5 separate regions of the Homo sapiens genome follow, and all the other regions are reported to be linked to region 1. Evidence: microRNA targets listed by miRTarBase, many of them from high-throughput screens and not tested one by one. Region 1 holds a microRNA gene; each other region holds the end of a gene's coding sequence. Distances are from middle to middle.

Region 1 (5,104 bases):
ATCTGCCTGGCAAGTCTTTAAAAAGTTCCATCATTTGGTTTATCTTTAATGTGGTGAAAAAACTTGCAAGATCACACTTTAATCAAGGTGTCTTGAGGAGTTACTGATGACAAATTACAAGATATTTTGCTCTGTGAAGTGGTAAACAATCAAAACATCATCAACAAGTAACAAGGTTTGCTCCCTTGACTCCCAGCTGCTCCTGTCCTTTTTTGTCTGTTCAGGCCCTGGATCCAATGGAACTGAAGGGTGAAGGTCTTGTCCTTTCCCTGGAAGAACAGCTCAGTGCTTTGACCTTGTCAGAACTCCGTGACTCAGAGCCATCTTCCACTGTTTCCCTTAACGGCACCTTCTTCAAGATGGAGCTTTTTGAAGGCATGCGAGAGAGCACCAAGGTACTTTTTGTCTCCTCTGTAGTAGTCGAGAGACTTCGATTCCTCACACATTTTCCTGTGTGACAGCACTTCATTTGTCCAAGTGGGAACAGCCATTTGCCAGCAGAGCTAGAGCCGTTAAATTCTAGCTGATCAGATTCTCCCTCCAGTCTTAAAGCTTCATTTATTTCACAGATAACACTAAAGCCTTACTACATAGGGGACTTTGAGAGAGTAATTTGGGACAACCCCAGCATTGCACTGAAGTGGGTTTTCTGTCATGGGTCACTGGGGAGCTTGCCAGGTTTGTGCTAGGGACGGGGCCTATGCAAGTGAGCAATTTGTTTAGAGAAAGCTTAAAAGGAAAACAAAGGCTTGACTCTAGAGACTGTGTCATACATGCGAGCGCCAATTGCTCTGACTTTGAAAGGCTTCCACATGTGAGTAGTGTTTCCTACATAGCCTTCTGTCTTCATTAGTCATTCTGCTCTGTTTTCGTCAGAGCTTTTTAAGGCAGAAACATTCTGCTGGAGGAAGGCTTAGATATGCCGTAACCTGAATCCTGCCTGTCTGCTGGCTCGGAATGTGCTTCATCATCCTGCCTGTCTTGAAAGTGAGGCTTGTTTCTCTCTTAGCATCTCAAGCTGCCGTTCTTGGGCTCAACCTCTCTTCAAAGGCTTTTTTTGAAAAAGTGTATTAATAACTAGAAAGGTCACTTCCAGGGGAATGGCATTATTTTTTAAAAGGAATGCTGCCTTTTAATTAAAATTTGAAAACATTTACCTAGGTCTTTACCACTGATAGCTGAGAGAAACATAAGAAGAGCATCCCATGTGGCCAGAACACACATGCTAGTGCCTTCAGAGTGAGCTATTGGGCTAAAATTTAAATTCCTAATCATTTGTGTTCCTTGTTTAATTAAATGCAGGTAATATTTATTCACAAGTTTTCTTAACATATGTCCATTAATAGTTCAAACCACATACGGTTGTTTCAAGTAGGGAAGGAGGCTTCTTACTGGAATTTGACCCCGGCTCGTGGGCCATAAATCCAGCCCTCCTGCTGCAGTTTTCTCAAAACACCATGGCTAGCTTTTTCATGTGGGAGTCACAGCGCCTTCCACAATCTCAAGTTGCCAAGACACCAGGCACATCAGTGTCTCTGTTCTATTGTTAACTAAATAACAGATGTAGCTGCTTTTCTGTCTGCTAATTTGAATGGTACAGTTCTGTGACTCACTTCCTGCCTAGGCACCAGAATGTTTGTTAAGATTGGAAAGCAGCCCCATGTGGTGACCACTGTAATGACATCCTAGAATGTGGGAGCTCAGGGCACCTCAGAATTTATCTGGCCTAAGTCCTTCTTTTCACTGATGAGGAATCTGAGTCCCAAAGTGGTCCAGCCATATGAGGACAGAGGAAGAACTTCTGTATATTTGTCTCCTGATTGACTTACAGCCCAGTTTTCTTCCTTCTCCAGCATTCTGGGGGTGAACTCTGGGGCCCTTAGAGGCTCTTGAAAGGTTTTTCACATGAGCAGCTGGGAAGAATGAGCCCAGCTGCACTCCAAAGTCATGCCCCACGTGTTCTTACTGACAGCTCCCCTGTGGACTCAAGTGCACCCTAAGGGTTCTTGGGGAATACCCAGGGAGCCTGTTCGGAAGCTTTAACAATGGTTCCTCCGTCTGGACAGGTCCTTTTCAACAACATTTGGAGCAGGCCATAAAGTGGGTAAAGCTCTTTCACTTTCTTCTTCAGCAAACATTAGGAGAGTATCTTCTCTGTTTTGGCCATGTGTGTACTCACAGCCCCTCACACATGGCCGAAACAGAGAAGTTACTTTCCTAATATTTGCCTCCTTGGAGTGTCTCAAGTCCTGGAAGCAAGAGATAATAAGCAATTAATATACAGTATGACAAGGACCGTGATAATAGAAACAAAAGGTGCTATGATAGTACTTGGGCAGTGGGCACCTAACCTGTACTTTGGGGGTTGGGAGGACCTCCAAGAAGAAGTGACATTAAGCTGACACAAAAGGGTGTTCTAGGCAGAGGGAGCAGAATGGACAAGATGGCCAGTGTGTGATTTATGGGAAGAATTTTGGTGTGCTTGCTGTGTCGTTTGAGGAGGGCATGGTGAGAAACGAACCCAGAGAAGCAGAGGCTGGAGCAGCAAGAATCCGGCAAGCTGCCTTGAGGAGCTTGGCCTTTATCCTCAGTGGGAAGCTATGGAAGGGCTTTAGCCAGAGGGGTGAAGTGACAAACTCACATTTTAGAAAGAGCTTTCTGGCTGCAGAGAGGAGGGTGGAATAAAGACAGGTGAGGCCAGAGCACAGACGCCATGTAGGAGGCTGCTTCGCATGGCAGGTGAGGGGAGATGGAGAAAAGTGAATTGCTTAAACATACAATGTTGATGTAACCTTTTCCCAGATTTCATCTCTGTTGGCAGAATTGGAGGCAATTCAAAGAAATTCAGCATCCCAAAAGAGGTAACTGCGTTTTCTCATTATCCAAGTATTGGTCATAATTATGTGAGAAAATTTGATATTGCCAAGAGTTATAAATCAAGGACTGTGAGTCATGCTCAGCAGAAAGCACTGAGGTTATAGCACACATTCCCTGTGATTTCTAATTAAAATATTTGTGGTACAAATTGAAAAGGAGATCCCTAGAGGATCAGGGTAAGCGAAGCATCTGAAAAAGTGTTTAAAAGTAGAGAAGCATATAAAGAAAAGCAAGCGAGTGAGGAGGCTCCAGCAGTGCTGATAACGTTCTTAAGCTGAGTACTTGGATACAAGGACTCATTTGTTATACCTGACATATGTGCTATACACCTGCATTATTTATAAAATAATTCAATATAAAAATTTAGAACTCGAATTAAGACAGCGTGGGGGCAGGGAGGAGCCTGTTGTTCTGGCTGGCACAAGAAGGGTGGTCAGTGTGTCCCTTTTGTGCAGGACCACAGATTTCTGGATGAGCACTAGGACCCCAAATGAAAGAAGGCTGGAGTCATCACTTTACTCTAGCTACCATTTTTTTCTGACTTCATTTAGCACTAAATAAATTGTAGAAAGGACCTAGAAATAACTGGAAGCATTATAATCTTCAGATATGACCTAAATGTGTGCCTTCTCCCTTAGGTAGCAGAAGGCCTTTCCTTGTCAACATTTGATAGCTAACCTTAAGAATGATGAGGGCATTAAAGCCCTGCAGATGAGTCTGTTTAATCTATGTTAGGGTATTTTTTTATTTTATTCTTCTTTCCAGTGTCATTGTCTCTCAGTGGACCAACATGCTGAAAGTTGTAGCATTGCACCTGAAGAAGCATGGACTGACTTATGCCACCATCGATGGCTCTGTCAATCCCAAGCAGAGAATGGACTTGGTAGAGGCATTTAACCACTCCAGAGGCCCTCAGGTACAAGCTGGTCACATCAGAGCCGCATAATTAACTGTTCTGAGTTATACAAAGAGAATTCTTTTTGTTTGGTTGGTTTTTGTTTTTGTCTTTTTGAGACGGAGTTTTGCTCTTGTTGCCCAGGCTGGACTGCAATAGTGCTATCTTGGCTCACCGCAACCTCCGCCTCCCGGGTTCAAGCGATTCTCCTGCCTCAGCCTTTCAAGTAGCTGGGATTACAGGCTCCTGCCACCAAGCTTGGCTAATTTTTGTATTTTCAGTAGAGATGAGGTTTCACCATGTTGGCCAGGCTGGTCTTGAACTCCTGACCTCAGGTGATCCACCTGCCTTGGCCTCCCAAAGTGCTGGGGTTACAGGCGTAAGCCACCGTGCCCAGCCATATAAAGAGAATTCTGATATGGCAACTTAAAAATATTTACAGCCTTGATTCCTCCGAGTGTTTAGAATTTATTAGACATGTATTGGGATACTTTTAAAGAGCACAAATATTCTAAAAAGAATCAAATATGAGGACTAAAAGGAGATTAACAGCAGAGCTGGTTAGGTTGAGGGGAATCTTTGCAGAGGAGGCAAGCTTTGAAGGATAGGTGGGGTTTTGGTATGAGGAAATATGGAAGGAAATGAAAGAACACAGGCATCTAATTATAGATAATAAAGATTTGGAAAGCATTAGTAGAATGATAGGCAGGAGAATTATTGTAGCAATGGAGGGGTAGGGACTGATGAAATAAACATAATCTGGTTAATTGAAAGTTTATTGAGCTGACCATCCCCAGGGTTCTAAATTACAGTATTTATATATTTTGGCAAGCACTCAGTTAATTTTTTGAGGTTGACTCACACACACACAAAATGTGATGTGAGAATTTTCTCAAAAGTGAGACATGGGAGATAGCATTATAATGTTAAAAAAAAAAACAATTTATAACAGCAGAAGGAAATTTGATAGGAACACAGTGCTTATCTGTATTGATTGTGGACTTAAACCTGAGACCGAGATGTGTTACGAGACCAAGTCTGTTTAAAGTTAATGTTGTGTTTCCTTTTGAAGGTAATGCTAATCTCTCTCTTGGCCGGAGGTGTTGGTCTAAACCTGACTGGAGGAAATCACCTCTTTCTTTTGGACATGCACTGGTAATGATTCCGGATTTGTCCTGGGTTGTCACAGCACATCAAGGAGGCCAGTGGGCTACAGGGGCAGCAAGAACTGACTTCTTATGTTGATTGCTGTGTTCGTATTGCAGAGATGCCTTGCTTTGTATGTGTCTATAGATACAGATCTAAGCAGGGTATAGGGCTAGCTGACTCCCC
Region 2 (5,104 bases), 25 Mb from region 1:
TCATAGACTATTGAACTCAGGGTCTCAGTTTCTCACTGTTGTCTAGAAACCTCCCCTAATCCCCTGCCCATAGGCCTTTCTAGAGTGCACCTCACAACATGGCATGTGGCTTCCATCGGAGTGAGCCAGTGAGAGAGGATACCCATGATGGAAGCCACAGTCTTTTTGTATTAATAACTAATCTCAGAAGTGACATCCCATCACTTTTGCTATATTCTGTTAGTTAGAAACTAGTCACTAGGTCCAGCCCATACTCAAGGTGAGAGGATTATACAAGGGCATGAATACCAGGAGACAACAGCCATTGGGGGATATCTTAGAAGGTGTCTAGCAGAGGGGCAAAAATGTTCAGTAGGCTCCAGTTTTATATATAGCATACCATACTGCCTTGGTGAGAGTCTTGAACTTCATCCTGACTGAGGACAGCCCTGAACCAATTCATGGGGTCATGGGAATGCTGTGAGCTAACGAAATCATTCTGGCAAAGGATAAGGGGAAGAGCTAATGAAATCATTCTGGCTAGGGATGAAGGAAAGAGAAGGGCTTTTCCAGTTGACCTTGATCAGTTAAAACTTAGCCCTCAAGTTGAATACGAAGCTCAGTCTACTCCACCCAAACTGTTGTTGGGTAGAATATACATGATGGGGAAGAAATTGAATGAATATTGACAAGACACACAGTGTCTACAACAGCTAGTAAAATACTTTACATGTTTTTTTGTTGTTTTGTTTTTTGGGTTTTTTTTGAGATGGTGTCTTGCTCTGTCACCCAGGCTGGAGTGCAATGGTGCAATCTTGGCTCACTGCAATCTCTGCCTCCCGAGTTCAAGCAATTCTTCTGCCTCATCCTTCCGAGTAGCTGGGACTACAGGTGCATGCCACCATGCCTGGCAAACTTTTTGGGTTTTTTTGTATTTTTAGTAGAGATGGGGGTTTCACCATGCTGGCCAGGTTGGTCTCAAACTCCTGACCTCATGATCTGCCTGCCTTGGCCTCCCAATACATGTTTTACTCAAAGTATCCTTTTTTGCTTCACAGATATATTCCATGAAGACAAAATAGAAGATGAACTTCTATTCACCGTTTCTGGAATTCTAGCCGCCATGATGGTCTGGTGGTGACTGATAACTAGTTTTATTCCAAGACATACCTTTACCTCTTTAAGTTTCAATCTCCCATCTCCCAGTCCTTCAGTCCCCAACTGCAGAGGATGACCTCCCCAGATAGAGGAGAATCATTACTCCAACAAGAATAACCAAGTCTTTGTATCCCTAGTACAAGACATAGTATTTTTATTCGAAAATGAATGTTTAAGTATTAAATTGAAACTTGAATGAATATTCAAGAAAATATAATGATCTCTACTTTTTCTGGATGATTTCCAGCCATCATATCAGTTTGCCAAAAAAATTGAGAAAGTTATGATTTTGACCTCCCAACCTAAACTCTAAATTCTAAAGATCAGTAAACAATTAGGTCAATAAATACATACAATTTAAGATGAAGCCCTTTGGAAGTCTAGTCCAAAACAGGAAAATCTCAGAACTTTCTGGACTCAAGGAAATGCTTTAAATGGAATCTGTAGTTTGTTTGCAGGAGAGACAATTTCTAGAATTTAGATTGCTTTTCAAAATGTTTATCAGGTAGGCAAGTTAGCAGTTGAGGCGGAACACAGACAACTTGGGGAGCTTTACTGGAAGGCCAAGAAAATACTCTTGGACACTGGAGGAAATGACAGCTACTAAAGCCCAATCATGGAAAAGGACCAGAAAGCAGCCCACTGGAATGGGGAGCTTAGTGGGCAAGGAGGTAGGGATATAATTTCTCTTCTTGGCTCCACCAGTAATTAGCTCTGTGGCCCAGTCACCTAAACTTTCTGGACTTCAGTTCAGGTTGTATGGCAGTAGGCCATAGAATTGGCTACTGCCATACAATCTCTATGGGAAAGGACTGCAAAAACTAAATTTTATCTCTGTATGGGCAAAGGCTACTGTCATCCTGTTGTTGGTCTGGGGCCACTCTGACAATTTTTTTTAACCTCATTTGATTGTGTAAGGGTCTAACCACAACAAAAAATCATAGTGTAATAGAATTAATCAAGTTCAGCAAGGTCACAGGCTAGATCAATATACAGAAAATCAATTGTATTTTTCTGTTCAGAAAACTCCAAAAATGAAATAAAGAAAATTGTGTTCACAATATCACCAAAGAGAATTAAATACTTAGGAATAAATTTAACAAAATAAGTATAAGACTTGTATAACGAAAACTATAAAACATTCAAGAGGGCTGGGCATGGTGGCTCATGCCTTTAGTTCTAGCACTTTGGAGGCAGAGGCAGGAGGACTGCTTGAGCCCAGGAGTTCAAGACCAGCCTGGGCAACAAAGTGAGACCCTGTCTCCACAAAAAATAAAAATAAAAATAAATTGAAGATGGCCGAATAGGAACAGCTCCAGTCTACAGCTCCCAGCAGGATGGACACAGAAGATGGGTGATTTCTGCATTTTCAACTAAAGTACCTGGTTCGTCTCACTGGGACTGGCTGGACAGTGGGTGTAGCCCACAGAGGGTTAGCCGAAGCAAGGTGGGGCATCGCCTCACCTGGGAAGCGCCAAGGGGTCGGGGGATTTCCCTTTCCTAGCCAAGGGAAGCCGTGAGTGACTATACCTGGAGGAGGGGTACACTCCTGCCCAAATACTGCTCTTTTCCCACAGTCTTCGCAACTGGCAGACCACGAAATCCCCTCCCATGCCTGGTTCAGTGGGTCCCACGCCCACAGAGCCTTGCTCACTGCTAGCGCCAGCAGTCTGAAATCGACCTGGGACGTGGGAGCTTGGCGGGGTAGAGGTGTCCGCCATTGCTGAGGCTTGAGTAGGCGGTTCTATGCTCACAGTGTAAACAAAGCAGCAGGGAAGCTCAAACTGGGCAGAGCCCACCACAGCTCAGCAAGGCCTACTGTCTCTGTAGATTCCACCTCCAGGGGCAGGGCATATCTGAACAAAAGGCAGCAGACAGCTTCTCCAGACTTAAACGTCCCTGCCTGACAGCTCTGAAGAGAGCAGTGGTTCTCCCAGCACCGCGTTCAAGCTCCGATAATAGACAGACTGCCTCCTCAAGTGGGTCCCTGACCCCCGTGTAGCCTGACTGGGAGACATCTCCCAGTAGGCGCCGAAAGACACCTCAGAGAGGTAGATGCCCCACTGGAACGAAGCTTCCACAGTAAGGATCAGGCAGCAATATTTGCTGTTCTGCAGCCTCCACTGGTGACACCCAGGCAAACAGGGTCTGGAGTGGACCTCCAGCAAACTCCAACAGACCTGCAGCTAAGGGGCCTGTCTATTAGAAGGAAAACTAACAGAAAGGAATAGCATCAACATCAAAAAAAGGACATCTACACCAAAACCCCATCCATAGGACACCAACATCAGAGACCAAAGGTAGGTAAAACCACAAAGATGGGGAGAAACCAGACCAGAAAGGCTGAAAATTCCAAAAACCAGAATGCCTCTTCTCCTCCAAAGGAACACAACTCCTTGCCAGCAAGGGAACAAAACTGGACAGAGAATGAGTTTGACAAGTTGACAGAAGTAGGCTTCAGAAGGTCGGTAATAACAAACTTCTCCAAGCTAAAGGAGCATGTTCTAATGCGTCGCAAGGAAGCTAAAAATCTTGAAAAAAGGTTAGACAAATGGCTAACTAGAATAACCAGTGTAGAGAAGAGCTTAAATGACCTGATGGAGCTGAAAACCACAGTACGGGAACTTCGTGAAGCATACACAAGCTTCAATAGCCAATTCGATCAAGTGGAAGAAAGGATATCAGTAACTGAAGATCAAATTAATGAAATAAAGCGAGAGGACAAGATTAGAGAAAAAAGAGTGAAAAGAAATGAACAAAGCCTCCAAGAAATATGAGACTATGTGAAAAGACCAAATCTATGTTTGATTGGTGTACCTGAAAGTGATGGGGAGAACAGAACCAAGTTTGAAAACACTCTTCAGGATATTATCCAGGAGAGCTTCCCCAACCTAGCAAGGAAGGCCAACATTCAAATTCAGGAAATACAGAGAACACCACAAAGATACTCCTCAAGAAGAGCAACCCCAAGACACATAATTGTCAGATTCACCAAGGTTGAAATGAAGGAAAAACTGTTAAGGGCAGCCAGAGAGAAAGGTCAGGTTACCCACAAAGGGAAGCCCATCAGATTAACAGCGGACCTCTGGGCAGAAACCCTACAAGCCAGAAGAGAATGGGGGCCAATATTCAACATTCTTAAAGAAAAGAATTTTCAACCCAGAATCTCATATCCAGCCAAACTAAGCTTCTTAAGTGAAGGAGAAATAAAATCCTTTACAGACAAGCAAATGCTGAGAGATTTTGTCACCACCAGGCCTGCCTTACAAGAGCTCCTGAAGTAAGCACTAAAATGGACAGGAACAACCAGTACCAGCCACTGCAAAAACATGCCAAATGGTAAAGACCATCAACACTATGAAGAAACTGCATCAATTAATGGATGAAATAACCAGCTAGCATCATAATGACAGGATCAAATTCCCACATAACAATATTAACCTTAAATGTAAATGGGATAAATGCCCCAATTAAAAGACACAGACTGGCAAATTGAATAAACAGTCAAGACCCATCAGTGAGCTATATTCAGGAGACCCATCTCATGTGCAAAGACACACATAGGCTCAGAATAAAAGGATGTAGGAAGATTTACCAAGCAAATGGAAAGCAGAAAAAAGCAGGGGTTGCAATCCTAGTCTCTGATAAAACAGACTTTAAACCAACAAAGATCAAAAGAGACAAAGAAGGTCATTACATAATGGTAAAGGGATCAATTCAACAAGAACAGCTAACTATCCTAAATATATATGCACCCAATACAGGAGCACCCAGATTCATAAAGCAAGTTCTACAAAGAGATTTAGACTCCCACACAATATTAATGGGTGACTTTAACACCCCACTGTCAATATTAGACAGATCAACAAGACAGAAAATTAACAAAGATATCCAGGACTTGAACTCAGCTCTGGACCAAGCAGACCTAATAGACATCGACAGAACTCTCCACCCCAAATCAACAGAA
Region 3 (5,104 bases), not on the chromosome of region 1:
TGGTCCACGGGCAGGGCTTCCAAGGGACAGCAGCCAGTAGGTGGAGGGCAAGGTCATAAGCTTTGGGACTTGGGCCCTAGGGCACCTGAGTGACCTTGACTTTTCTCTCTCAGTCTGGCCATCCCTCTTCAACGTCAACTTGTCCAAGAAGGTTCAGGAAAGCATCCAGATCCCGAACAATGGGAGTGCGCCCCTGCTCGTGGATGTGCGGGTGTTTGTCTCCAACGTGTTTAATGTGGTAAGTGCCTCTAGGCCAAGGGCCCCAAGTGCTGAGCTGGGCAGGGAACAGGACTCAGCCCTGGATAGTGCTGGGGTCTCCTGCTGCGTTCTTTCAACACAGCGCTCACCCTGAGGTGATGCATTGCCCTTCCCCCAGGACATCCTGCGATACACAATGTCCTCCATGCTGCTGCTTAGGCTGGTGAGCTCCTATGCCTGGGGAGGTGGGATGGGAAAGCCCAGCTGAGTCCAGCTCAGAACTACCAGCCTTCATCAACATGCTGAGCTTAGGGGCATGGATATGTGGAGAGCAGGAGCCTCAGTGGTGCCCTTGTGTCCCCAGTCCTGGCTGGACACTCGCCTGGCCTGGAACACTAGTGCACACCCGCGGCACGCCATCACGCTGCCCTGGGAGTCTCTCTGGACACCAAGGCTCACCATCCTGGAGGCGTAAGTGAGACAGTTCCTGCCCCAGGAATCTGCCATGCATAGCCCTCCTTTTCCCCCATCTACAACCTAGAGGCTGTCTGAGTGAATATGACCCTCCTGGCGGTCCCCGCCGGACTAGCAGTGCACCTTCACTGCCTCGAATTCCCCTCCCACTGCCAGAACTCTGAAAGCAGCTGGGGTTGGGGTTGGGATGCCAGGGTCTCCCCCCGGCCCCGTCCAAGAAGGGGCTGGGGCTCTGGCTGTGGTGCCTTTCCCCACAGGCTCTGGGTGGACTGGAGGGACCAGAGCCCCCAGGCTCGAGTAGACCAGGACGGCCACGTGAAGCTCAACCTGGCCCTCGCCACGGAGACCAACTGCAACTTTGAGCTCCTCCACTTCCCCCGGGACCACAGCAACTGCAGCCTCAGCTTCTACGCTCTCAGCAACACGGGTGCTGACAGGGCAGGGGCTGCAGGGTTGAGGAGGGGAGGAGGAAGGTGGGGGAGGGGAACTCCCAGGTCTGTGGTGCAGGGGCAGGGTGCGGGGCAAGGGGAAGGGGCAAAGGCAGACAGAAGGCGAACTCCCAGGTCTGTGTTCAGAGCAGTCTACCCCAGGCTTAGGCGGGCAGCACCTGCTCTCCCACTGCGCCCCCCACTCGAGTGGCAGCCCATCTCTGTGCTCAGCGGTAGCCTCAGGGCCCCTCTCTAGGGTGACAGACTCAAACATTCGCAGCAGCTCTGCAATCCCAGAGGTCCGAGCACATCAGTCTTCTGTCCTCCCCAGAGCAACTGCCCTCCACAGCCATGGCGACTGCAGTGGCTCGGCCCCTTGCAGCAAGGCCAGAGGCTCAGGTTGCCATGGCCTCACTCCTGGAAACCACCTGAAGGTGCAGCCACCCTGTATAAACCCATCAGGTGACATCTAACTTGGCAGAGAAGTCCTACCCTTCCCTCCATGAGAGACCACAGCGGTAGCCCTGGGGATCCTGCTTCAGCTGTGAGATGATAGACTGACGAGCCTGTGACCACTTCTCCCTCCATCATGAAGTGGTGCAAAGTACATTTATTTTTACAATGAAAGCTCATCTATGAATCTGATAAAGGCCTTCCTTCAACTGGAGACAATTTGGGATGTTGCAAAACAAGGTTTGGGAAGCCCTTCTATGGATCGGTTTTGTGTCCAAGTCTGTCCCTGCCAAAAGCCATCAAAAGTCTCCATCACCCCTGGGCTCCAGTCTGCTACCCCCAGACTTGGCAGCTGGGATCTCTCCTTCCTGGTTCATAGTTCTCATTCCCACCCCTCAGCGATGGAGTTAGAGTTCCAGGCCCACGTGGTGAACGAGATTGTGAGTGTCAAGAGGGAATACGTAGTTTATGATCTGAAGACCCAAGTCCCACCCCAGCAGCTGGTGCCCTGCTTCCAGGTGACGGTGAGTCAAGTCGGGAGGAGGCCGACAGAGGGCTGCTGGAGGCGGGTGGGAGTGAGGATGCACGGCCAGAGGCCAGGCCCCATGCCCCCGATGCCCACCTCCTTCCCCCCCGCCGGGAAGGCCCTGACTTTTCCCCTTCCAGCTGAGGCTGAAGAACACGGCGCTCAAGTCCATCATCGCTCTCTTGGTGCCTGCAGAGGCACTGCTGTTGGCTGACGTGTGCGGGGGGTTGCTGCCCCTCCGGGCCATTGAGCGCATAGGCTACAAGGTGACATTGCTGCTGAGTTACCTCGTCCTCCACTCCTCCCTGGTGCAGGCCCTGCCCAGCTCCTCCTCCTGCAACCCACTGCTCAGTAAGCCCTGCTCCCTTACCCAGTCTGCCCTGTTTCTCCCCGGTCACCCACTGGTGCTCAGCTCGCTGGGCACCAGAGACACAGGGACTGGCCCCTGAGCATCTCCCTGTGCCCTGCCTCCCCCAGTTTACTACTTCACCATCCTGCTGCTGCTGCTCTTCCTCAGCACCATAGAGACTGTGCTGCTGGCTGGGCTGCTGGCCCGGGGCAACCTTGGGGCCAAGAGCGGCCCCAGCCCAGCCCCGAGAGGGGAACAGCGAGAGCACGGCAACCCAGGGCCTCATCCTGCTGAAGGTGGGCAGGGGCTGGGGGGTAAGGAATGAGGCCTAGGTGCACACCTAGGGCTGGGGTGAGGGCACGGAGGTCCAGGTGTGGGTAGAGGCCCCTTGCATCCACCCTGCTGGCTCTCCTGTCCCTGGTCTCCACCATGTCCTCCTCCCTTAGAAGAAACAGGTCTGGGGCAGGGAGCAAGCTGAGCCTCCCTGAAGTCCCAGGTGACCTCAATCCCCTGATAACCCATGCCTTGCACAGCCTAAGAGGGTGTTTCTTCAACTGAAGATGGCCTGAAATGGGCCAGACCCAAATTTTCATCAGCTGAGAATCTAAGAAAGGAAGCGATACAGGCTGATGACCCCTGGGGTTCGCTCTTCCGCTCATGTTGAGGGGACCTTGAAGAACAGCTCCTTTCCCTGTATCTCTCCCCACAGAGCCCTCCAGAGGAGTAAAGGGGTCACAGAGAAGCTGGCCTGAGACTGCTGACCGCATCTTCTTCCTCGTGTATGTGGTTGGGGTGCTGTGCACCCAATTCGTCTTTGCAGGAATCTGGATGTGGGCAGCGTGCAAGTCTGACGCAGCCCCTGGAGAGGCTGCACCCCATGGCAGGCGGCCTAGACTGTAAAGGGGCAGGGCCTGGGCTGCACACCTTAGGATGAAGTTTGCTTTCCCATGGCTGGGGGCGGGCCATGACAGGGCCTCTGGATTAAGCCACCCTGAGCTCTCCCTCCGCTAGCACACAAGCACAGAGCGTGAAATAAACCCATCTCCAGTGCAAGTGTGCCTCAAGGGTCAGTCTTCAATCTCGTCCTAAATAGGTGGGGCCCTATTTTTTGCTTCCAACCCCCATTTTGCTCCTTAACTTTTCCCCATTGTCCCTGTCTCCCAGCCCACAGGCAGGCAGCCTAATTGCTCCTTCTGCAACCACGACTGCCTGGCCCTGGGCCAAGAGGCACTGAGGCTGGGGGCCAGAGACAGGGGCCTGAGGAAGGCTGTAGAGGGTGGGGCGGAACTCCTCCTCCGAACGCCTCCTGCAGTGTGCTGGACTCTAGGGAAAATGGCCAGTGAGCCTGCCTCCCCCAGCCACCTAGGGGACTCCTGGGAGGGAAAGGTCCCAGACCTCAGGCCTGTGGGCGGGCGGGAATGTGTTTTAAGAGAGGGGGTCAGTCCCGACTGCCTTTCCTCCAGGAGCTCTGGCTGCTTCTCTGAGCCCTGCCACATCTCTGGGCTGTAGGGGAGTTCTCTGTCCCCACCTCTGACCTAGGCTGGAGGGAGGGCCCTTCTGCCCTGCTGCTCTTGGTACACATGGAGCAGCAGTGGGCACAGGCCTCTGTCTTCCTTCTCTCTTTTCCTGTTTCAGAAGCCATCAGGGTCATAAAAGCCAAGGTGTGGAGGGACCCCAGGCTTCCGGGAGAGTGCTGGTTCGGCTGGGAACACGGGCTGTGGGGAAAAAGCAGGAGCCAGGACTAGGGGGCTCAGGGACACAGCTCCCGGAGGCGTGGAGACAGGTCTCTGTCCCAGAGGACTTCAAGCTCACCCAGCCCAGAGGCAAGCTAACACTGGTTTATCTGTCCAATGACACGCCAGTCTGGTGGAACCAGGCAGGGCTAGCAGCAGGCTCAGGCAGAGGTGTCGAAAAGGCGATCGATCATGTCGCCCACCTGCTCCACCCCGTACTTGATGTACTTCTCCGGGTTCTTGGTGAAGGGCACGCTGCCAAACCTGAGGAGGCACTGTGGTCAGGGGACAGGGAGGGCCGACCCCTCCCCAGCTCCACCCTCAGCCTAAGGCACTCCTGATAGTCTTGGAAGGGGTGGCCCTGAGCGATTCCCTGTCTGGCCCCGCCCCAAAGCCCAGGTCGCTGGATCTGCTGCCTAAATCCACCACCCTTCTCCTTTTTCCCTTGAGGAAGAGGAGCTTGAAGAGGCCCACTGGGGCTGTGGGCAGCACAGGCTGGGAGGGGAATGGAGGCCTCACTTCTGTAGAAAGGCCCCGTAGGTCTCCTTGACAATGGTCTTCTGGGCCTGGCGAATCCTGTCCCTCTGCTCTGTGTCTGGAATAGCCCAGGCCTTCTGGATTTTGCACAGTTCTTCGAGGCCATCATTGAAGCCCTGGCCACCAAAAAGGTGAAAAAGGAAGGCACCCAGAGACAAACATTTTGGGTCTGTGTTGCCTCAACAGCAGCAGCAAGCAGTGGAGGGGAGAGGACCCCGACTCACCTTAAAACGCTCCTTGATAATCTGCCGCTCCTTGTCCCGGAGCTGGGAAGCCAGGAGAGATAGCAGAGAAAGCTCACTTCAGAGCAGAGCAGCCTTCCCCCACTCTTCCCCAAACACCCTTGGTCTGGGCCTGTCTCCTGTGTCCTGATGGCCACATGCATCCTTTGCTCTCTGATCCCAGA
Region 4 (5,104 bases), not on the chromosome of region 1:
GATATATTTAATAGGACAACAGCTAATAGTAGAAAACTTGTTCAGTATTTAAAGTAACATTACCAAAGACACAATCTCCTGCTGTGCATATTGAAATATTAAATTTTCTTTACTTTGTTGCCTAATAATTTGGGCAGATTATGAGAAGGAAGTGAGGTGGCCAAAAAGTCAGTGACAAGCATTATAAATTATGACCATTGTATGTTGTACAATTCTTCATTTTAAATGTTTTTAAAATTTTATGCTGCAACTAGACTTTAAAAAAATAATTTATATGTAAACTTTCTCTTAGCATTCCTGCAGATCATCCTGTGTTACCAAACATTAGTTGGATATAGTAGCTATAAACAGATAAGATTTGAGAAAATAATATAAAAATAGCTGTGTTTGTTATACAACCCAGCCTCTTTAGAATATAGGGTTGATTTTTACAAACCATACTTCAATCAACATCAAACATATGGCATTGTGGTTATGAGAAAAATATATCTTTGATCAGAGTTTCAAATTTATATTTATCAAGCACCTCACAAAATTCTCTTTATGTTTAAATGCTTATCCCTGTCTATTATAGAATGCTGCTACACAAAAATATCAATTAGGATACTGAAGCAATTATGAAAACTAAATAGAAAAATAATTGCAGTAAAATAAATTTTACAAAATTTTAACCAGAAGCAATTTTTAATTTAGTTTTTAATCTATTAAAAAGATTCTAATATGTAAGGCTTAGTTTGTCATGGTATGTGCCAAAATTACCTAATATTTCTTTTTCCAGAGATAAATTGAAACATAATTAATGTCACCTCAAATTTACATACCAATGTGAACAGAGAAGAAGGGATGGTATATAAAAAGAGGGAGAGTGGTGAAAAAGGTATTTTTTTATTTCTTCCTAAACAGTTAGCTTCTAATATACGCTTGAGTACATATATACATATATTTTTCTCTTTTTTTAGCCATTAAGTCCCATTAAGAACTGTCTCATACTTTTTGAATGACAGATTTCAAATGAAAGTAAAATTATTTTTTAAAAGTCTGCAGTACAGATTCATTATCTCTACTTCTTAAAAACAAAAATTAGAAACAAAAATTTTAAAAACCTTAGGTATGTAATACTCTGCAAAGACTTAAGAAAATATGATTTTCAAATATTTGCAAGTGAATTTTAAGAAATATTAGTTCATTTAAAAAATCTAATTAGGCATACTGTATTCTCTTATAAACTACTGCTTGTAGCACAACAAATAGTTTACTACAATGAATTTAAGCACAAATAATATATCATATACTACATGAAATAGAAAAGACATATAGATATAGTGTCTTTCAAGAACACCCCTAGAAACTTCAAAGAACATAGTAATTAATATACAATTTTAAAAATAAAATAAAAATAGGGATATTATCTAAAAATTGTAGTTATTAAATTTTATTTAAGTAATGAACTAAAAACTGTTAAGAACTGATGTACTACACAATGACATTGATACTATGTTAAAATGATTCATAGAAGGCAGTCAAGACAGAGATTCAGAAACATTTTATTAGAAAAGTAATGCGCATTCATAGTAACATTAGCTTTTATTTCTGTGTACTGTAGGAACTTCCCAAAACCATTCTCCAAAGCTAACCATTTAAAACTCATTCATGTATTTTATTATGCATCCTACAACAAAGACTAAGAAGCAGGCAAGAATTACTATAAAACACAATCTAATTACAGAAAAGTTAATTTATTTTTACATGAAAACATTTTGAAACCAATTTTGTGTTTATTGAAGGATTTTTCTCATGCATATTATCCAAGATTTTTTTCTGTCAGAGTATTAGCTTCCTAGGATTGCTGTAACAAATTACCATGAACTGGGTACCTTAAAACAGCAGAAATACATTCTCACTGTTCTGGATGCTAGATGTGCAAAACCATGTTAGCAGGGTTGGCAACTACTGGAACTCTGAGGGAGAATCTATTCCATGCTTTTTTCCTATCTTCTGAGGGTTCCCACAATGTATCACTCCAATCTCTGCCTCCAGCTTCATGTGGCATTCTCCCCTGTGTCTCTATCTTCTCTTTCTTCCTTTTTTTTTTTTTTTTTGAGACAGAGTCTCGTTCTGTTGCTCACACTGGAGTGCAGTGGTGTGATCTCGCAACCTCCACCTCCCAGGTTCGAGTGATTCTTGTGCCTCAGACTCCTGGGTAGCTGACATTACAAGCACCACGCATGGCTAATTTTATTTTTAGTAGAGATGGGTTTTCGCCATGTTGGCCAGGCTGGTCTTGAACTCCTCAGCCTCAAGCGATTTGCCTGGCTTGGCCTCCCACAGTGCTGGGATTACAGGCGTGAGCCACCATGCCCGCCCTATCTTCTCTTATAAGGAACACCAGTCATATTGGATTAAGGGCCTGCCCTGCTCCAGTATGACCTCATCTTAGCTACTTACAACCACAACCACAGTATTTCCAAATAAGGTCACATACTGAGGCTCCAGGAAGTACATGAATTTTGGAGAGGACACCATTCAACCCAGTACATTCAGTTTCTATTTAACATAAAAAATAATTCCCATACTATACAGGGTGAAAAAATGACTTATGAAATAGGTGAAAGATTGTTGAATATACAAATGTGATCTTTTCTTTTCCAATCACATACAGAGATAAGAATTTTTTGGGAATATGTCTCATTCACAAATATGTATTATATGCAAAGAGAAATTTATACAATGTTCAAGTAGGATTCAGGGAATTAACCTAGGTGCATTCTCTTGTTTCTATTTCAACCATATTGTTCTCCAGATTTTTTTCCTAATTCTGATTTCCCTGTAGGATTGTTCAGATTTAAATAAAGCCTGTAAAGCAGAAGTAGTGAACAAGCCTGGGTACTAAAGTTAAATATTACAGAGGCAGATAAAATAAGTCTGAGGAAAATTCATGCATTTAATTCTATCTATTTTGCCCACATAGTTATGCTGATATTTCATTCACTTGGATTCACCAACCTAAAATTTGTAACTATAATGGAGAATCTTTTTTCTGTATTTGAAAAAAGTGCACTGAGCAAATTAATAGTATAAATATGATTTCAAGGATAACTAAGAGAATATTTATTTCTATGTATGGTTAATCAACATGCCCCCTTCCATACTCCATGTGCCCTTTGACTAATTATCTCCAACTCATCTTTCAGGTCACAATTTAAGTATAAATAATAAATTAGAAGTACATATTACTATAAAAAATTGACATGTGAATTATGAATCAATCTCCTCAATTTGTTAAAGAATCTTCTACCAAGTACTCTTTTCTTGAATAAACTTTTACCCATATTACAGTTACCATATCTTTGTAACAACATTAAGGGAGCATTGATTTTACTATATTAAATAGACAGTTTTCTATTTCAAATAGACTTGGCTGAATTATTTTGATTAGCTCAATTAAAAAATACAAGATTCTAATAAGAGACTTTATTACTTACTAAAGGCATTGTGAGCTATTATTAAAATAAATACAATTGACATGAAATATAAGTTTTGTGAAACAATTCTCTGTAAGGATTTTACATTTTTACTTTGCGATAGATGAACAAAATGGCCCATATCATACTGAAAAATCCCTTTAAAATAATAGACTATAATTTGAAAGATGAAATTTTATCAGTATAACACACATTTAAACTAATATTTTAAAATTTAAAATTTGTAAAAAGCCTACATTTGAGAAAGCTAATTATTCACAAGTAGGGACATTAAAATTCATTCCATAATCATCATTATTTGAGCCACAGAAAGACTGATGCAAATTGGAATATCTAAATTCAAAATTTAGGACATGCAGATATGATTACAACATCTTTCTCTTTGGTAGCTTGAGTTTACGTATTTAGATAAACACAACACAGTATTATTTTTTAAAAAATTTCCTGGCCAGAGGAAGGATTGCCTTCAAGAGTCCAATATGATGCAAAGATTAACATATTTTTCCAGTCTGGAGGTGCTGCTGCTCCCTGAGTGTAACTTTCTCTGTCATGTATTTCCTACAGTTTCTTTTTGAGAAAAAAGAAATGCTAAATGCTATCAATTTTCAGACTGTCCCACACTTAAACCTATACCAAGACATTCAGGGACATAACATGAGTAAAGATTAGAGAAATTGTGAGAAAAAAATTTGAAGAATAAGATGATGATAACTTATAATTTGATAGCTGCTCTAAGCTTGGCTGAGCGCCCTCTGGGGTTATCTTGTACATCCTGATCTTGTGGACTAAGTACCTTCTTGTGTATCAATTCCCACATTAAAGGAGCTCTTCTCATAGAGACTTCTTCCGTGTTTTCGTGATCTGAACCCAATTGAGATGTTTTCATCACTTGTTGTCTAACACTTAGGTTAAATCTTTCTGTCATGCTTATTCCAAGCAAAAATCTTTTGACGATGCGATCCTCTAGTGAATGGAAGGAGAGGGCAACAAGACGACCACCAGGTCTCAGAAACTTCTGAGCTGTCTTCAGTCCCGTGTAGAGTTCATTGAGCTCATTGTTCACAAATATGCGAAGAGCCTGGAAAGTCTTGGTGGCAATATGGGTAGATCGCTGTAGTAAGTCTTTCCGTGTATAAATAGCAGAGGGAGGAAATGCTCCTAAAACAAATGTTGTAAAGATAGGAAAAGAAGACCGGTAACATTAATATTTTTCACTGTAAATCTAATGAATTGTGTAGTTGTGTGCATATTTAGTGAACTAAGTTTTCTTAGAAAATTGTGGTGGCACTTCATTCATACTTCCCCCTCTTATTCCCAAACATTCTTCCAAGGTTTAAAACTATGTGGCAAAAAAACCTTTCATAACTCATAAGGATAATTGGAGTTTAACAAGGAGCACAGAAAGAGAAATGGTGGACATATATTTAAAGAAATAATAACAAAATCCTTCTCAAATTTGGTGAAAAACGTTAACTCAAAGATGCTCAATGAAGCACAAATATAATAAACAAAATGGCTGCACATAGGCATATCATAAAACTACTACAGCCAAAGATAACAACAAAAAAAATGCCAACAGAAAAGAAAATTCATTACATAAAGAAGAACAAAAATATTATTAA
Region 5 (5,104 bases), not on the chromosome of region 1:
GCTTCAACCAGAGTATTATGAGTATCAGAGTATCATGAGGGATAAATTCAGCTTAGCCCTGTGAGGCCTTGGAGGTACTTGGACATGTTGCAAACCCTTGAACACTGTTAGACTGTGACAACAAATATCTCTTTGCAGGACAAGCAACTTCAAAATTCCACCTAACAAGCTGCAAGAAAGGGAATATCAGAGTAGACCAAGTCACAGATGAACTTTCTGAAATGGACTAAAGGCATTTTTTAGTGAACATGGAAGAAAAGGAAGATTTTTACAACGTAGCATTCCCACAACCTAAAAAAATTTCACATCCAACTGTTTTTTTATCTTCTTTGGTAGACATCAATGAAATAATTCCTTTAAATTCACAGAAGATAGCAAAATTAAAAAGCCATATTTATTTAATGCATCAAATACCAAAGTTCAATTAAGGAAACTATTGCAATCTTCACCTGAGATAGGCCCATCATCAGGTTAGAATAAAGTGTGATAAGGGGAAATGTTGTAAAAACCTCTTACGGCATAGCAACATGACTGCAGCCCACCAGTCTCAGCCATTACTGATACTGACCCTTGCAAAGAATCAAATCTCTAATATAATCCTGAGAATGTGCACACACATGTGAAGGAAAGAGGTGTATTATGTAATGGAACACTGATAGACAGACGTCTTAGCTCGCCTTACAGTTTTTTTTTTTTTTTTTTTTTTTTTTTGAGATAGTCTCGCTCTGTCGCCCAGGTTAGAGAGTGCGGTGGCGTGATCTCGGCTCACTGGAACCTCCACCTCCTGGGTTCAAGCATTTCTTCTGTCTCTGTCTCCCGAGTAGCTGGGACTACAGGTGCCTGCCACCATGCCCGGCTAATTTAAGTATTTTCAGCAGAGACAGGGTTTCACCATATTGGTCAGGCTGGTCTCAAACTCCTGACCTCAGGCGATCCACCCACCTCAGCCTCCCAAAGTGCTGGGATTACAGGCGTGAGCCCTGCGCCCGGCCAGCTCTCCTTACATCTTGATTTCAATCCTATAAATGGGAAATGGTAGGGAGCACTGTCTAGTCTACTGTGGGATTTCTAGTTGTCATAACAATAAGAACCATATAAACAACGCCCACCTGGTAAACATTAGGGTGGCCCAGGAACTCTGCAGCAGTCACTGAGCACATTCCAAAGAGCGGATGTTAACCCCCCAACCCCGTATTTTAAAGGGCTAGCTTCAGTCTGGCTGCCAATGGTTACATTTTTTCTTCCCCACCTTGTGTTTAGCCTCCCCTTCTGTGTCCAACCTCCTCCACTTCTCAATGACCCCAAGGGCCTCTGTAAGTGCAGGATTCTACCCAAAACCCTCCCAATTCCAAAGGGTGGGCCTTGGCATAAAGAGGCATCATTCCAGGGTGCTACACGGTGGCTTCTGAGGGAAGACCAAGAAGGCTGAACCTGTTGTATTTGGTAATGAATTTTGTTTTCTCCTGGGTTGGGTGAGCACCTTAGGAGCTTACTGTGGAAGCAGAGTCCTAGCGAAAATAAGACTGGCATTGATAGGATGTCTTGTATCATCAAAATGCTTAACAGGTCCATGAAACATCCTAGCATTGCTGTGAGAGTGGTTCCAAGGTTTCTATGAATGGTGGAAACAGACACAAACGAAATGTGGGAAGAAGCTTTGGGAAGACCAAGAATGAAAAAAAGGGAAAAGAACCTAACACTCAATGCAATGCTACTTAAGGAGAAAAATACATAAACCGTTCTTCAAGCTTTAGGTCCAAAACAATGTTCTCTCTTAAGAGGGTGGTTTGCAAACAGGGACCATGAGATAATTTACAATCAAATCATTTCAGATATTGAATGATGATTCTGAAACACGCATTCTATTTCCATCAATGTGAGGTTTATTTCCATAGAAACGGTGAAAAAAGTAGGCCAAACCCAGCAGTATGGCTTCTAAAAGGAATAGCAGCTGTGGTTCTGGCCAGCCATGGAAAGCACTGGTTTTGTAACTACTATAGTAAAGAGCTCTGACTGAAGGGAAATAGAAAGTTTCAACTCAAAGAAAGGGCATGGAAAGTATCTGAGAACTTTCCTGGCTGTTTCTTACAAAGCCATGGAGAAAAAATCATCTCCTGTGCACCCTGCTCTTCACAATGCCACAGTAAAGTCGAATTCACCACCTGCGAAACAGCTGCCTCCTGTAGGCTGGCCTCAGAGGAAGCACACATGCTCCATCAGTTGCAACAAGGCGAAAGTCAGAAGAGTGTGAAAGTGTCAGGCCCAGTGCTCCCGGAAAATGAACCCGGAAACACTCAGTGAGGCACCACCGGTGTGAGAAAGAAGAGACAGGTGTCTTCTCCAATGGGCACAAGTATGTCATGCTTAGAAAAGCAGAACACAGGATGAAACAAAACATATTTATTTGCAAAGAAAGATCATGTTTAAATTGTACCTGTGTTTAAAAATGGCCTCTTTGATGGGTTATAAAAGTGCAGGCAGGTTTTATGAAACACGCACTTTGCCTCTCTTCTATCCTTTTGTGGGAAGCAGGCAGATGCTGGCTGGAGGACATTTGAGAGCTCGGAGCTGAGGCTCATCACAGCCAAATCCCTCACTCACCAAGTGAGCGGAGCTGCCACTGACGCTTCTCCACTCCCGCAGAATCTACTATTGAGCACTGGGCCCCCTGAGGACAGGATGTGACCCTGGCTGGCATGATTCATTCAACCCGTTCATCTTGGAATTCTTTTGCAGAAAAAAAAAAAGTGACACTTCTATGGCTAAAGATTTCCTTAAAGAAGAAGAAACATCAGAACGAACCTTTGTGCTGTGTGAAATGAGGGAACAAAAGATTACTTTCAGTGAGTTGATATCTGTAAGCTAATCAACTGGGTACTGGCCTCTTGTTAGAGGAAAAAAAAGTCCAACTTGGAAACCATTACCACAGGAAAAAACAATGACTATGTTGTTCATTCCTGTTGGTCACTTGGGTAGTCTAAGAAGTAGGACATATATGTCTGTAAGCCCTTTAAAATACACATCTTTTCTTTTTTCTTCTCACTATGTAAAACACATATATATTATCCTAAAGTCACTTGAAAAACACAGACTGCTTACAATCAATAGAAGATACCAGTAAGATGCAAGAAAATGAGCATTTTACAGACAGACCTTTGATAGGCTTTAAAGTGAATCGTTTTTATTTAAAACAGGGATCCATCAGAGGTGGTGAACTATCAAGGTCAAGGTTCTAGAGCATGGCACAGATGAAAGGTAATACTCACCAGCACCTCACATGGGACTCAGTGACAATGTCAGCAACACACCATGGAAGGAGAACAAACCCGATGTAAAAGGCACCTAGCTGGGGAGAAGCTGTGGTGTTCACTGCCTCTCTAGCAGGTTTGCTTTTGTGCACTGTGGCTAAGTCTGGATGAATAATATTGGGAAGGGAATAATCGGAAGCGAGGCTCCTATGCAGGCAGCTACCCTCTCCTGATTGGTGTATACTCGCCATGTGGTAGGAGGTCTTACAGGAGACTGAGGTTACCAAACAGGAATACAACACCTCTCTCCCTTTTCTGCTCTAGAAGGAAGGGGAACCCTTCCCCCAGTATCAATTTCAGCAGCGGCTTCTAAAGGCTGTTAAAAAGCATCCTAACTTAAAAACAAATAACAACAGTAACCAAATAAAAGACAGAAAAGTGGCCTGAACTTAAATCAATCAATGGAAAGGTAGATTCATAAAAATAAAATAAAAACTGGTGACCAGTCCATTAACCATGGGGTTAATGCCTCGTCTGAAGGAAGATGTTTACGCTGCATCCACGATCCAGCAGGCGCGGAGCTGCTCTTGGCAACTGTGAATGAATAGCTACCGTTTCCCTTCAACACACCGCGCTGCCACCGGTGACCGCATGTCAAGTGCTGAAGTTAGAAGAGACCCCACGTTGGCAAAGGCCCCCCAGGCGATGATCTGCCTGACGCGGCCAGGTCTGTGGGAAACAAGACTTACGATCTCAAATAATGACCCCCAAGTGCCCTCGCCTCTTCCTGCTTGCCCTGTGCGCCTCGACCTCCTCACGGGGAGTTCCAAATGAGTTCCATTTCCCTCTCAGTTCTAGGCACTCTGGAACATCTTTGATTAACCAGGGTTTTTCATTTCTTTCCAACGCCATTGGTGACTTTTGACTTGGAATGCCGATTCCTTCTCCTGGAAGAATGGCTTTCGTTGTTGCCTGCATGCTTGGGTGGGCTGTCTTCAGAACCTGGCCAAAGGAATCAGAGCACACCGTCACCCTGGGCTCTGGAGATTGGTGACTGTCCCTTTCCAGACCGCCCTAGGCTTGCCGGGGAACAGGTTCTTCCCTGATACGTGCACTCCCCCTAGTGGCCTCATTCATAAATGAAGGCGAGGCTCTCAAACACAGAACTAGTACTGAAGGAGCACACGCGGTGGCGCGGGGTTCAACGCAATAGCGCCCCAAAGTCTGGGTGGTTCCTGAAGCGTGTGTACATCTGTCCTGTGTATGATGGACATGGTCATGATGGTGAGGACCAGAAGTGAGAGCACAAGTGAAACGGAAGCCCAAACGAGGGGCAATTAAAACACACACCACGCGGTGCCCATCCTGCCCTGCAACCAAGGGTTTCCATCCCTTCACCTGCTCCACACCACCTTCTAAACCCGACATCAGGAAAGACTCTTGACACTATAAAATCAGAGCTATTTCACACCCTCTACATTTGATCTGGAGAACATCTTTACAATTCAGGCCCCTGCTGCCCACGATGGAGGGCACTGGGCAGCCTCTGCCCTCCAGCTGAGCCTTTGTTCAGCCCCTGCCTGGCCTAGCGGCCAAGCCAAAGGGTTCTCTGCCCCAGGGCTCTGATCCAGCCCCATAGGAAATCTCCACCTGAGGCTGCCAACAAAAAAAAAGTTACCAGAGTTACAGTCTCCACTGTAAGGAGCATTTGACTTAGACTAAGAGATTCTTTCCCCACTCAGAAGACTTCTGTTTTTGTTATTTTTCTTTTTTTATTATTCCATCAAGTAAATACATCTCTACTACTGCTTAATTCTCTTCAGTGGAGAACCTGTAAGTGCCAAGGTTGTTTGTAA

The links. The annotated mature microRNA hsa-miR-942-5p reads UCUUCUCUGUUUUGGCCAUGUG and lies in region 1 at 2,149-2,170, shown strand. An mRNA with a match to its seed (bases 2 to 7 or 8) in the 3' UTR can be bound and repressed. Matches are read on the target gene's strand: a 7mer-m8 pairs with bases 2 to 8, a 7mer-A1 pairs with bases 2 to 7 and ends in A, and an 8mer does both.
Region 2: miRTarBase lists RPAP2 as a target of hsa-miR-942-5p. Seed matches in the 3' UTR shown: 8mer at 3,713-3,720.
Region 3: miRTarBase lists EXOC7 as a target of hsa-miR-942-5p. Seed matches in the 3' UTR shown: 7mer-m8 at 4,042-4,048 and 7mer-m8 at 3,904-3,910.
Region 4: miRTarBase lists METTL15 as a target of hsa-miR-942-5p. Seed matches in the 3' UTR shown: 8mer at 2,367-2,374 and 8mer at 2,068-2,075.
Region 5: miRTarBase lists PTDSS1 as a target of hsa-miR-942-5p. Seed matches in the 3' UTR shown: 7mer-A1 at 3,035-3,041 and 7mer-A1 at 2,335-2,341.

The regions. Positions count from the first base shown.
Region 1 is chr1:117,092,507-117,097,610 of GRCh38, forward strand. MIR942 (microRNA 942) reads left to right here and starts at 2,137; the gene lies at 2,137-2,222. It overlaps TTF2 (transcription termination factor 2), which reads left to right. Exons shown (of 23, transcript NM_003594.4): 18 at 225-395; 19 at 2,803-2,861; 20 at 3,643-3,793; 21 at 4,845-4,927.
Region 2 is chr1:92,385,974-92,391,077 of GRCh38, forward strand. RPAP2 (RNA polymerase II associated protein 2) reads left to right here. Exons shown (of 13, transcript NM_024813.3): 13 at 1,038-5,104. The coding sequence ends at 1,038. Among named protein-coding and RNA genes, the nearest start is that of RPAP2, 89 kb to the left of the region's middle.
Region 3 is chr17:76,079,326-76,084,429 of GRCh38, forward strand. EXOC7 (exocyst complex component 7) reads right to left here. Exons shown (of 19, transcript NM_001013839.4): 17 at 4,923-4,964; 18 at 4,681-4,814; 19 at 1,691-4,425. The coding sequence ends at 4,323. ZACN (zinc activated ion channel) reads left to right here. Exons shown (of 9, transcript NM_180990.4): 1 at 1-36; 2 at 114-238; 3 at 377-421; 4 at 563-669; 5 at 930-1,099; 6 at 1,953-2,077; 7 at 2,220-2,430; 8 at 2,557-2,724; 9 at 3,138-3,481. The coding sequence ends at 3,328. Among named protein-coding and RNA genes, the nearest start is that of ZACN, 2.7 kb to the left of the region's middle. RefSeq lists enhancers at 1-688, 520-569, 689-1,684 and a silencer at 1,769-1,969.
Region 4 is chr11:28,329,932-28,335,035 of GRCh38, reverse strand. It overlaps METTL15 (methyltransferase 15, mitochondrial 12S rRNA N4-cytidine), which reads right to left. Exons shown (of 7, transcript NM_001113528.2): 7 at 1,529-4,640. The coding sequence ends at 4,195. Among named protein-coding and RNA genes, the nearest start is that of MIR8068, 150 kb to the left of the region's middle.
Region 5 is chr8:96,332,603-96,337,706 of GRCh38, reverse strand. PTDSS1 (phosphatidylserine synthase 1) reads right to left here. Exons shown (of 13, transcript NM_014754.3): 13 at 712-4,250. The coding sequence ends at 4,141. Among named protein-coding and RNA genes, the nearest start is that of PTDSS1, 73 kb to the right of the region's middle.